2 separate regions of the Homo sapiens genome follow, and region 2 is linked to region 1. The links come from fine-mapping of genetic effects on gene expression. A gene starts in region 1. The other region holds a variant in brackets. All regions are shown on one strand. Distances are between the middles of the regions. Region 1 holds the start of MZF1-AS1 (MZF1 antisense RNA 1). Region 2 overlaps ZNF446 (zinc finger protein 446).

Region 1 (4,374 bases):
GATACACAGCATACCCCAAACATGCATGTTCAGCTGTGTATGCGTGTCCCAACTCCTGGCCCAGGGTGACCCCCAACTTTTCTGTATCCACAGCTCCCAAATGCCCCCACTCCCAAACATCCTCTGACCGCCCTAAACCCCAGGCTCCCCATCCATGACCTCCACTCTACAGTATCTACCTGTTCACCCAAACTCAAAGATCCTGCCCACCCCCACCAACCCTCAGTCCTCACTGTCCTTCCTCTTCTCTGTCTCTCAGACCCAGCTTTCCATGTGACCCCCACACTCTCAAGTCCCCAACCCCCGCCACCCTACCCCACCCCCTCTGACTCTGAGGTTCACAGCACAATAGCCTAAATTTCCCCTCACCCCTGTCTCCAATCCCTGGTACTCATTAACCTTCCCTCCTCCACCTGTCACCCCAAACCCCAAATTGCTGTGACTCAGGCAGGCCCATGAGTCCCTGGTCCTCCAACCTACTTCACCCGTTTGACTCAGAGATTCCCAGAGACCCCAGCATAATAAACTAAATCCTCTTCCACTCATATCCCCAACCCCTGGCCTCTACTATCCCTCTCTTCTCCGCCTGTCACCCCAAACCCAAGTTCCCGTCTAACCCCCAGACTCTCGAGTCGTCAGTTCCTCCACTCCACTGCCTGACTCTGAGATTCCGAGTCCCTAGTAGCAGACACCAGGCCTTCCTAATATCCTAAACCACCACATACCGGGCCCCTATCTCTGACCCCCTCCCCGTGACTGCATGATCCCAACCCTCAAGACTTGACCTCCGACCCCCCCCACGCTCGGGGCCCTTCACCTCTGACCCTCAGCAACCGCATTACCCCTTCCTGACTCCCACATCACCCTGCCTCAGGCCCTGACCTCCGACCTCCGGCTCCAACCCCATCCCCTGACCCCCTACCCTTCTGGATCCGCAGCTGCGCCGCCGACGCCTTCTTGCTGCTGCCCTTGGTGCCGCCCGCCGACTCCTCCTCCTTCTTCTGCTGCTTCAGCGAGAACAGCTTGATCATCCTGCCGCCGCCGCCGCCGCTGCCGCCGCCGCGGGGCCCGGGACCCCGGCCACCCGGCCCCCCGCCGCCGCCCGCGTCGCCTCCGCTCCTCGGACCCGCAGCTGCGGCCTCCTCCGCTGCTGCCGCCACCCGCCCGGCCTGCCGCGCCGCTCCGCTCCTCTCCGCGCCCACCGCGCGGCCCGCCTCGGCTCCCGTAGTCCGGCTCCGGCCTGGCCCAGCGCCTCGGACTCGCTCGGCAGCGCTCGGCCAAATTCGGCTGTTCTCGGGCCCGCCCGGCCCCGCCCCCACTGCCCGGGGCCGCTCCTTCCTTGCCCTCGCCAACTCTGGTCTCAGGCCCCGCTGCAGCTGCGGACTCGGGGCTCCCCCGACCGTGCCGTTTGGCCGCTCAGCTGATCCCTCCGCGAGGGGGTGCGGCTAGGGGTGGGAGGAGGACACGGCAGCTGCGGTGACGGCGGGCGGGTACTGGAGGATCGTCTTCCGCGGCAGCAGCGGCTTTAGCGCGGAGGTCGGCAACGGCCTCGGGCGCCCCGCCGCTTCGGATATTTCCGCCGCCTGCCCGCTTTGGCTCTTCCCGCCCGGCCTGCGTTGTGCGCCTGCGCAGCCGCCGCAAACCCGCGTTGCTCAGCGATGGAGTTTGGGGTTCGGCCTCCTTCGGCTGGACTCGGGCATTTCCGTTCATGGAGATGACGCTTCGGCGGCCTTGCAGGTCACTTCCGGCGACTTTCGCGGGGCCGGGCAGGAAGCGGAGTTAGTCGCCATCTTTGAGTGGGGCAGACGTGGGCCGCTTTTGCTCGCGGTCACTTCATCTTAAGTTGTATATATGTGCAGAGCGCGGCGCGGGTGGTCACCTCCGCTGCTGCCGCCACCCGCCCGGCCTGCCTTTGACCCTATGGGTCACAGACAAGGCAGGGTGATCGCGGCAAGACCCTGAGTGAGACTAGATGCGTTACCCAGAGGGTGCGAGGTCGAGTACCTTCCCTGTCCCATCGCAAACCCAAAGATCCCCGTTCCTGGAGATTCTGATTGAGGTAAACTAACAAAACATGTATTGTGCCAGAGAGTGGTAAGCACTGTGGAGGGTTACAGTGGTGTAGGGGAAGACCTGTCGGGGTGGACACTTGGGGAACGCGACGTGGGGGCGGAATCGGGCCGCTATTGGCGTGGGCCTCAAGTTCCAGCGGACACGCACTGCAGCCTCTGCGCTTCCCCCACTATCTGGAAAAGGGGATGGAGGCGGGGGTCAGCTTCCCATCCAATCACAGCTCAGCGTGCCTCGGAGGGCGGGAGGAAACGGAACTCTGCCGGTCAGCGACTTCCGGCCGTCACCACGGAAACTGCCAGCCCCGTGAGCGCATGGTGTGGCACTTGCCTGCGGAGGGGCCCAGGCGCCACTCCTCTGATTCTGCAGATGCTCCCCCAGGAGTGGCTTCTGGCCAAGGCCAAGCCCCTTCTTTGAAACTGCCTTTCAGCCTGTGTTACCTGCACCCAAGTCACCCACTGGAGGGTTGGGGGAGAGGGGCTGTGTGAAGGACCTGGACAATGGGATGGAAGGGGAAGATGGCTAGGGCAAAACAGGCAATGGCACTGGGTCCTGGAGACGCTGCCCTGAAGCCTGCAGTATGCTGAACTTATGCTCTCAGCATCTGTCCACTTTCACCTAAGCTGCGTTTCCACTGGTTTGCTGCTGAATCTACTCCTGACTGAAACCTTCCAATGTGCATGGGGCCAGGGTGGGAGAAGCCTTCAGCTCTAGCGATGGGAATGATCACCACAGGGCAGGGAAACTGGCCCAGGGCCTGCAGCCTTTGCTTCTCAGACTGGCTGGGGTTCCATCTGCAGGGTCCTACACCCTCATCACCTGCTGCTTGTGAACACGAGAACAGGAAAGTCTTGAAAAATCTGAATTTCCAGGTGAAATCTTCTAGTTTTAAAACTAGGAAATGGTTTCCTAGGTGTAAAGGAGTTTTACAAAGACATCCTGAGGCAGAATCTGGATCACCAGGTGTCAGTTTGCTCCTGCTGGATCGCATAATCTTGGTTGGCTAGGGAGATTCTGGCCTGTCTGGGTCCTTTCCTGGGGTTTGGCTTGGCCCATGGCCCAGGGGACAGCCGTGACAGGGTGTGGAGGGGAGCATGCAGGTTGCAGGCATCAAGTTTAGGCACAGTACCACCCACAAACCTGGGGGTTGGCAGATCCAAGTGGGATCCTTGGCTCCCAGCTGTAAGAAGTGCTGTGACCCCACTGCTTCCCTTTGTTCCTCTAGTACTAAGGGTGAGATGCTGAATGTCCCCATGAGTACAACTCTTCAGCGGGTACTCCTACTGATAGGTAGATAAAGGTAGAAAGCTTTGGCCGCTCAGGACCACTTTAGGGAGTAGGGTGCTGTTAGGGTAAGGGTAGCTGTACAGCTGAGCTGGGGTGGGAGAGGTAGTATCATGGGAATGAATCATTAACGCTGACTTGGAGCAAGGAGGACTGGTGCTCAGGAGGCTGGTAACCTCCCTGAGGATTGAGTGTTCTCCCAGCCCTTGGAGGCCCTGGTCTCAGTGTCAAGGGAAAATCCCATGGGATTTCATCACCAGACAAGGCTGGGCTCCAGACCTACCCACCTAGGCATCACTGTGCAGGGCAGAGACTACAAACACCTCTCTTCACTTGCAGATCTGTTAAGGGCAGGCTGGAACAGGGGTTGGAAAGGGAGAAGAGACTAGGCCAGCACCACCTCTTCCCCTTGGCAACAGCAGGTCCTTCCAGGAGCAACAGTTTTTACATACCTCCCAGAACCAGGCTCACTGGGCCCCTTGGAGACACCCACACCAGTGCCCCCTCAGGAGTCTCCTAGGCCTATGGGGCACCCTCTTGAGAACAGAGACCTCCAGACCAGCTGAGCAGTACCCCCTCAGGCCCACAGGGCTTCCCTGCCAGCTAAGAGACCCCAGGACTGGCTCAGCAGTGCCCTCTTCTCAGGGGCCTGAGTTCCAGCTCCATGGGAAACTCATTGGAGCTTCTAAGTTGCAATGCTTCCCTTTGTTCCTCTAGTCCTAAGGGTCTAGCTGCTTCCTGCAGGAACTTTCCCATTTCTAAGACAGATTGACTTAACCTTCTCACTCTCCCATCAATCACCTAACACCTAGTTAGCTGTGCTCTGTCTCTTGATGGGACTCAATCAGATCAGGCATGGCACCATGCTATGCACATATGTACTCTTGGTGGATGCTCACAGAGAACATTTCTTCCTCTCTGGGTTTGAGAAACCGAGGTCCATTGCCCAGGGAGAGCTGAAGCTGGACTGCCCAGGGCAGTTCTGCCCCACCTGCTGCTGGTCCATTCCCTCTGTAAACT
Region 2 (4,374 bases), 79 kb before region 1:
GATGACCAGCTGTGGCAGGACTCCCCCCACACCTGAGACCAGATGGAGACACTCTCCCTGGGAAATGCCCGAAGTCCCTTCTCTCCTAGGGGTTTCTTCAGAGGCCACCTGTTAGGCCTGGAAGCTCAGCTTGAGGCCTCTTCTACCTGGATCGCTTGGTTCCCAAGTGTGGGTAGCAAGGTCTTTTCCTCTCCCGGCTCCTCTAACAACTCCACTGGGGAGCTTCAGCAGCAACATTGCTGGTTGAGATGTGTTTCGAGGCTAAGAAGTCCTTCCAGGCTCCCTCCACAGCCCCATGGCACAGTCAGAAAGTGAGGCAGGGTGGGTAGGCTGCACTTCCCAGTGTCCTCACCTCCAGCCAGCACCATCTCTAGCTGTGGCTCCTCACAGCTGCCGCCTTCCTGCCCCTGGACTTGCCACAGCTTGTCCCTCAGGATTATTTTTCCCAACCCAGCAAAGCCCCAGATGATGGGACTCAGGCAGCAAGGAGGGCTGACCCCCAATCAGGGAGTTCATTCCTCGATAAAGTCACTCAGGTCCCTGTGATGCTGCCAAACCTGCCCTCTGAGCAGGATGGTGTAGTAGAGGGGGATGAGTGCTGGCAGCAGCACTGGTCAGGTGATCTGAAGGAGAACCTCTGCACTTAACAAACACACACCTTGAGATCATTCTCAGCAGGAGGGGCAGATGAGGCGTAGGTAACCTGCTGACTCTTCCGGGTAATAGGTAAGAATGTGAACCAGACAGGGCAGGGAAGGGGTGGAAAGACGCCTACAGTGATGGGCCACATCCGCAGGAGGAGTGGGGGCTGCTGGACCGGTCACAGAAGGAACTGTACTGGGATGCGATGCTGGAGAAGTACGGCACAGTGGTCTCCCTGGGTGAGGACCAGCCAGCCCCACCCCGCCCCTCTCCCTGGGGCCTGCACCCACCCTGCAGCAGGCCTAGCTGGGCAGGGCCTCTGTGCTACCAGCCCTACCCAGCTCTCCCACCTTCCAGAGGAACACCCTGTCACCTACCAGAACCGACCCCACCCCTCCTTCATGCAAACCCCATGCCTAACTGTGCCCCCCACCCGGGCAGGGTTACCGCCCCACCAGCCAGAGGCACAGGCCCAGTCAGAGCTGGGGATGCTGCTCACGGGGACAGGCGTCTGCAGAAGCCTGCGCTCGGGTGAGTGCCCCACACCATCCAGCCTGAATCACCCCTCCTGTATCGGTGGGACCTGAGCCACCCACTCATGGGGGGACGGGAGCTTGTGCCACGGCCACAAGCCTGAGGGAGGGGTTGCTGAGTGCCGGGACTCACCTGGTTTGCCCCTGCCCCCAGGAAATGAGAGTGAGGGTCCACCTGGCTGCCCAGAGGCCCAGCCGCCCCAGGGCCCAGGGCCGGCAGCCTGGGAGGGCTTGTCTGGGGCTGCCACTCCTGCCCCCACTGTGCGCCCAGGGACACCGCCAGTGCCCACTCAGCCCACACCTGCAGAGACGAGACTGGAGCCGGCTGCCACCCCCAGGAAGCCCTACACGTGCGAGCAGTGTGGCCGCGGCTTCGACTGGAAGTCAGTGTTCGTCATCCACCACCGGACACACACGAGTGGGCCAGGTGTGCAGTCCCCGGGGCTAGCCACCGGGGAAAGCACAGAGAAGCCACCACAAGGGGAGGTGGCCTTTCCGCACCACCCCCGACGCTCACTCACAGGCCCCCGGAGTTACCCGTGTGAGGAGTGCGGGTGCAGCTTCAGCTGGAAGTCGCAGCTGGTCATCCACCGCAAGAGCCACACAGGCCAGCGGCGTCACTTCTGCAGTGACTGTGGCCGCGCCTTCGACTGGAAGTCGCAGCTGGTCATCCACCGCAAGGGCCACCGGCCGGAGGTTCCATGAGCAGCCAGACAGCACAGTCCCTCGGGGCCTCGGTGTTCTCGGGGCCTGGATACAGCCTCTGGGGCACCAGCAGAAGACTCTGGAGGCAGCAGGGGATGCCAGAGTGAACAAGGGGTCCCAAGCCAGTTCCCTGCCCCTGGTCTGGTCTCCCCCAAAAGACCTGGGTGCAAGGAAAAGGAGCTGCTCTCTCTCTTCTTGCCCCTGCCTCCTAGAGGGAGGTCTGGGTTCCCTTCTATGGCTGACCAGTGCCTGTGGGGTGACTGCCAAGCACCAGGCTCCCTCCCTCCCTGTGACATGGCCTGGGCTGACAACACTCCCTCTCCTGGGACCTCCTTGCCTCAGGTGGGTGTTCAAAAACTGTGCCTTCCCACTCGTCTGTGCAGAGGCTGGGCCTGAGGTCTCAGTGTGGAGAGCAGCAGAAGACCCAGGAAAGCACAGTTGGCTTCCGTTTCTCCTGCT[C/T]CCTGTGTGTGTTAGAATTTTAACATAAATTCCACTTTCATAATATGGAGTTTCTGAATAAGAATCCTGATTTCTGGCTTCTGCTGGTCGGGAAATAGGCAGTTTGCTGTCTCTGCCCAGTAGCTGCAGCACAGGGCAGTTGAGCCCAGAACGGCCAAACCTCTGTTGCCACAGAACCCAGGTCCCAGGTCCCCAGCCTCCCTTGCTCCTTGCCGCCCACATCACTCACCAGCCTCACTGGCCTTGGAACTCATCAGTCCCGGCTTGAGAGACACAAAGGGGATTTCCTTTCGAAGTACGGCTGGACAAGGGGGACCTCTGAGAAGAGGGGCTGCAAGCAGGGGTTGCGCCAAGGCCATGGGTACTTCTAGGTCAGGCCGCACCCTCCATAGTTAGCTGGTCATGCAGCAGGAAGGCAAAAGGTCAGCTCCCTGGGAAGCACCGGATCTCTGGGCAGTCACTGGGGACTCGCCAATGCACTGTATTAGTTTTCTGTTGCTGCTTTAACAAACTTGGCAGCTTGAAACAACAGATTCTCTTATAGCTCTGAAGGTCAGAACTCTGACATGGGTCCCACTGGGCTAAAATCAAGGTTTTGTTTTGTTTTGTTTTGTTTTGTTTTGTCTGAGATGGAGTCTCGCTCAGTTGCCCAGGCTGCAGTGCGGTGGCACAATCTCGGCTCACTGCAAGCTCTGCCTCCCGGGTTCACGCCATTCTCCTGCCTCAACCTCCTGAGTAGCTGGGACTACAGACACCCGCCACCACGCCCGGCTAATTTTTTTGCATTTTTAGTAGAGACGGGGTTTCACCGTGTTAGCCAGGATGGTCTCGATCTCCTGACCTCGTGATCCACCCACCTCGGCCTCCCAAAGTGCTGGGATTACAGGCGTGAGCCACCGCGCCCGGCCAAAATCAAGGTTTTAACAGGACTGGTTCCTCTTGAAGGCTCTAGGAGAGAATAATCCATTTTGTTGCCTTTTCCAGCTTCTAGAGTCAGCCCACGTTCCCCCTTTTTTTTTTCTTGGTCCATTCCTCCGTCTTCAAAGCCAGCCATGGTTGGTCACGTCTTCCTTAGGCTGCCAGCTCTCTGACACCCATCGATCCTTTGGCCTCCTTAAGGACCCTCATCATATCTTGTCCCCTACCTGCACACTTAGTCACACCGCAGAGTCCCTTTTGCCAATTGAGATGTTCACAGCTTCTGGGGATTGGAATGGGGACTCCTTGGGGGCCTTGATTCAGCACTCTTCTCCTTCCTACTCTGAAAACAAGGGGCATTTTCACAGGGGATGGTTTCAGGAAATGGGTGCCCTCTCGGAAGGAGCCCTCGCCAGCTGCTGGTATGTGCAGCATGTGCACAAGTCGCAGGTGGATGTTGAGGGTAGCTGCGACTGTGGTTACCCCAGGAGGGGCTCCCTGGGAGGGGCAGGAACCCTGCTGCGGCCTGAAGCTGGGAGAGGGAGGCTCTCCTCAGAGGCCCATCTTCCCCATCCCCTTTTATGAGGGCCTTCTAACCCGTTGCTCCCATGTGCAGGGCTCCGGAAGCAGGGCCAGTTTGGAGATGGAGCTGGGGGTGGGTGATCTGTGAGCAAGCAGGAGGCGAGAGCTGTGCTGGGGACAGAGAAGAAGAAGACAGAGCAGTACCCAGGGGCTCCAGCTAGGCCCCAGCCCAGAAGGGAGAGTCAGGGTATAGAAGGCTGTGAAAGGGCCAGATCATGCAAGAAAAGCTGCAGGGGGTGAGGGCAGTTTTTAAATAAACTTTTTCACATTTAGAAGCAATTTATGCTCACTTAGAAAAATTTGAAATACACAAGATGGCAAAGAAGATCATGAAAATGTTCCCTAATTCAACTGTCTCATGGCAATGCTTACTCCAGAAGTTTACATATAGAAGTGGTTGAATGTAAAGTTTCTTTTAAGGCAACTTATGTTGTTTCACTTTGGGAGACCACGAGTTCAAGACCAATCTGGGCAACATAGTGAGACCTTGTCTCCAAAAAAAAAAAAAAATTAAAAATAATAGTAGGCTGGGTGT

What was found. PIP is the estimated chance that this variant, and not a neighbour inherited with it, causes the effect. A credible set is the group of variants that fine-mapping cannot tell apart.
Region 2: its variant is the best candidate, but not a certain one, in a credible set for the expression of MZF1-AS1 in esophagus muscle (GTEx, PIP 0.73).

The regions. Positions count from the first base shown.
Region 1 is chr19:58,557,351-58,561,724 of GRCh38, forward strand. MZF1-AS1 (MZF1 antisense RNA 1) reads left to right here and starts at 1,836. Exons shown (of 6, transcript NR_027334.2): 1 at 1,836-2,059. It overlaps UBE2M (ubiquitin conjugating enzyme E2 M), which reads right to left and starts at 1,261. Exons shown (of 6, transcript NM_003969.4): 1 at 923-1,261. The coding sequence starts at 1,031. RefSeq lists a silencer at 1,186-1,485 and enhancers at 1,616-1,875, 2,021-2,617.
Region 2 is chr19:58,478,847-58,483,220 of GRCh38, forward strand. It overlaps ZNF446 (zinc finger protein 446), which reads left to right. Exons shown (of 7, transcript NM_017908.4): 5 at 797-881; 6 at 1,084-1,173; 7 at 1,330-2,384. The coding sequence ends at 1,880. It overlaps LOC112268251 (a long non-coding RNA gene), which reads right to left. Exons shown (of 3, transcript XR_007067366.1): 2 at 2,569-3,600; 3 at 2,251-2,341. Among named protein-coding and RNA genes, the nearest start is that of ZNF446, 4.7 kb to the left of the region's middle. The variant C/T (reference allele first, on the strand shown) is at 2,340.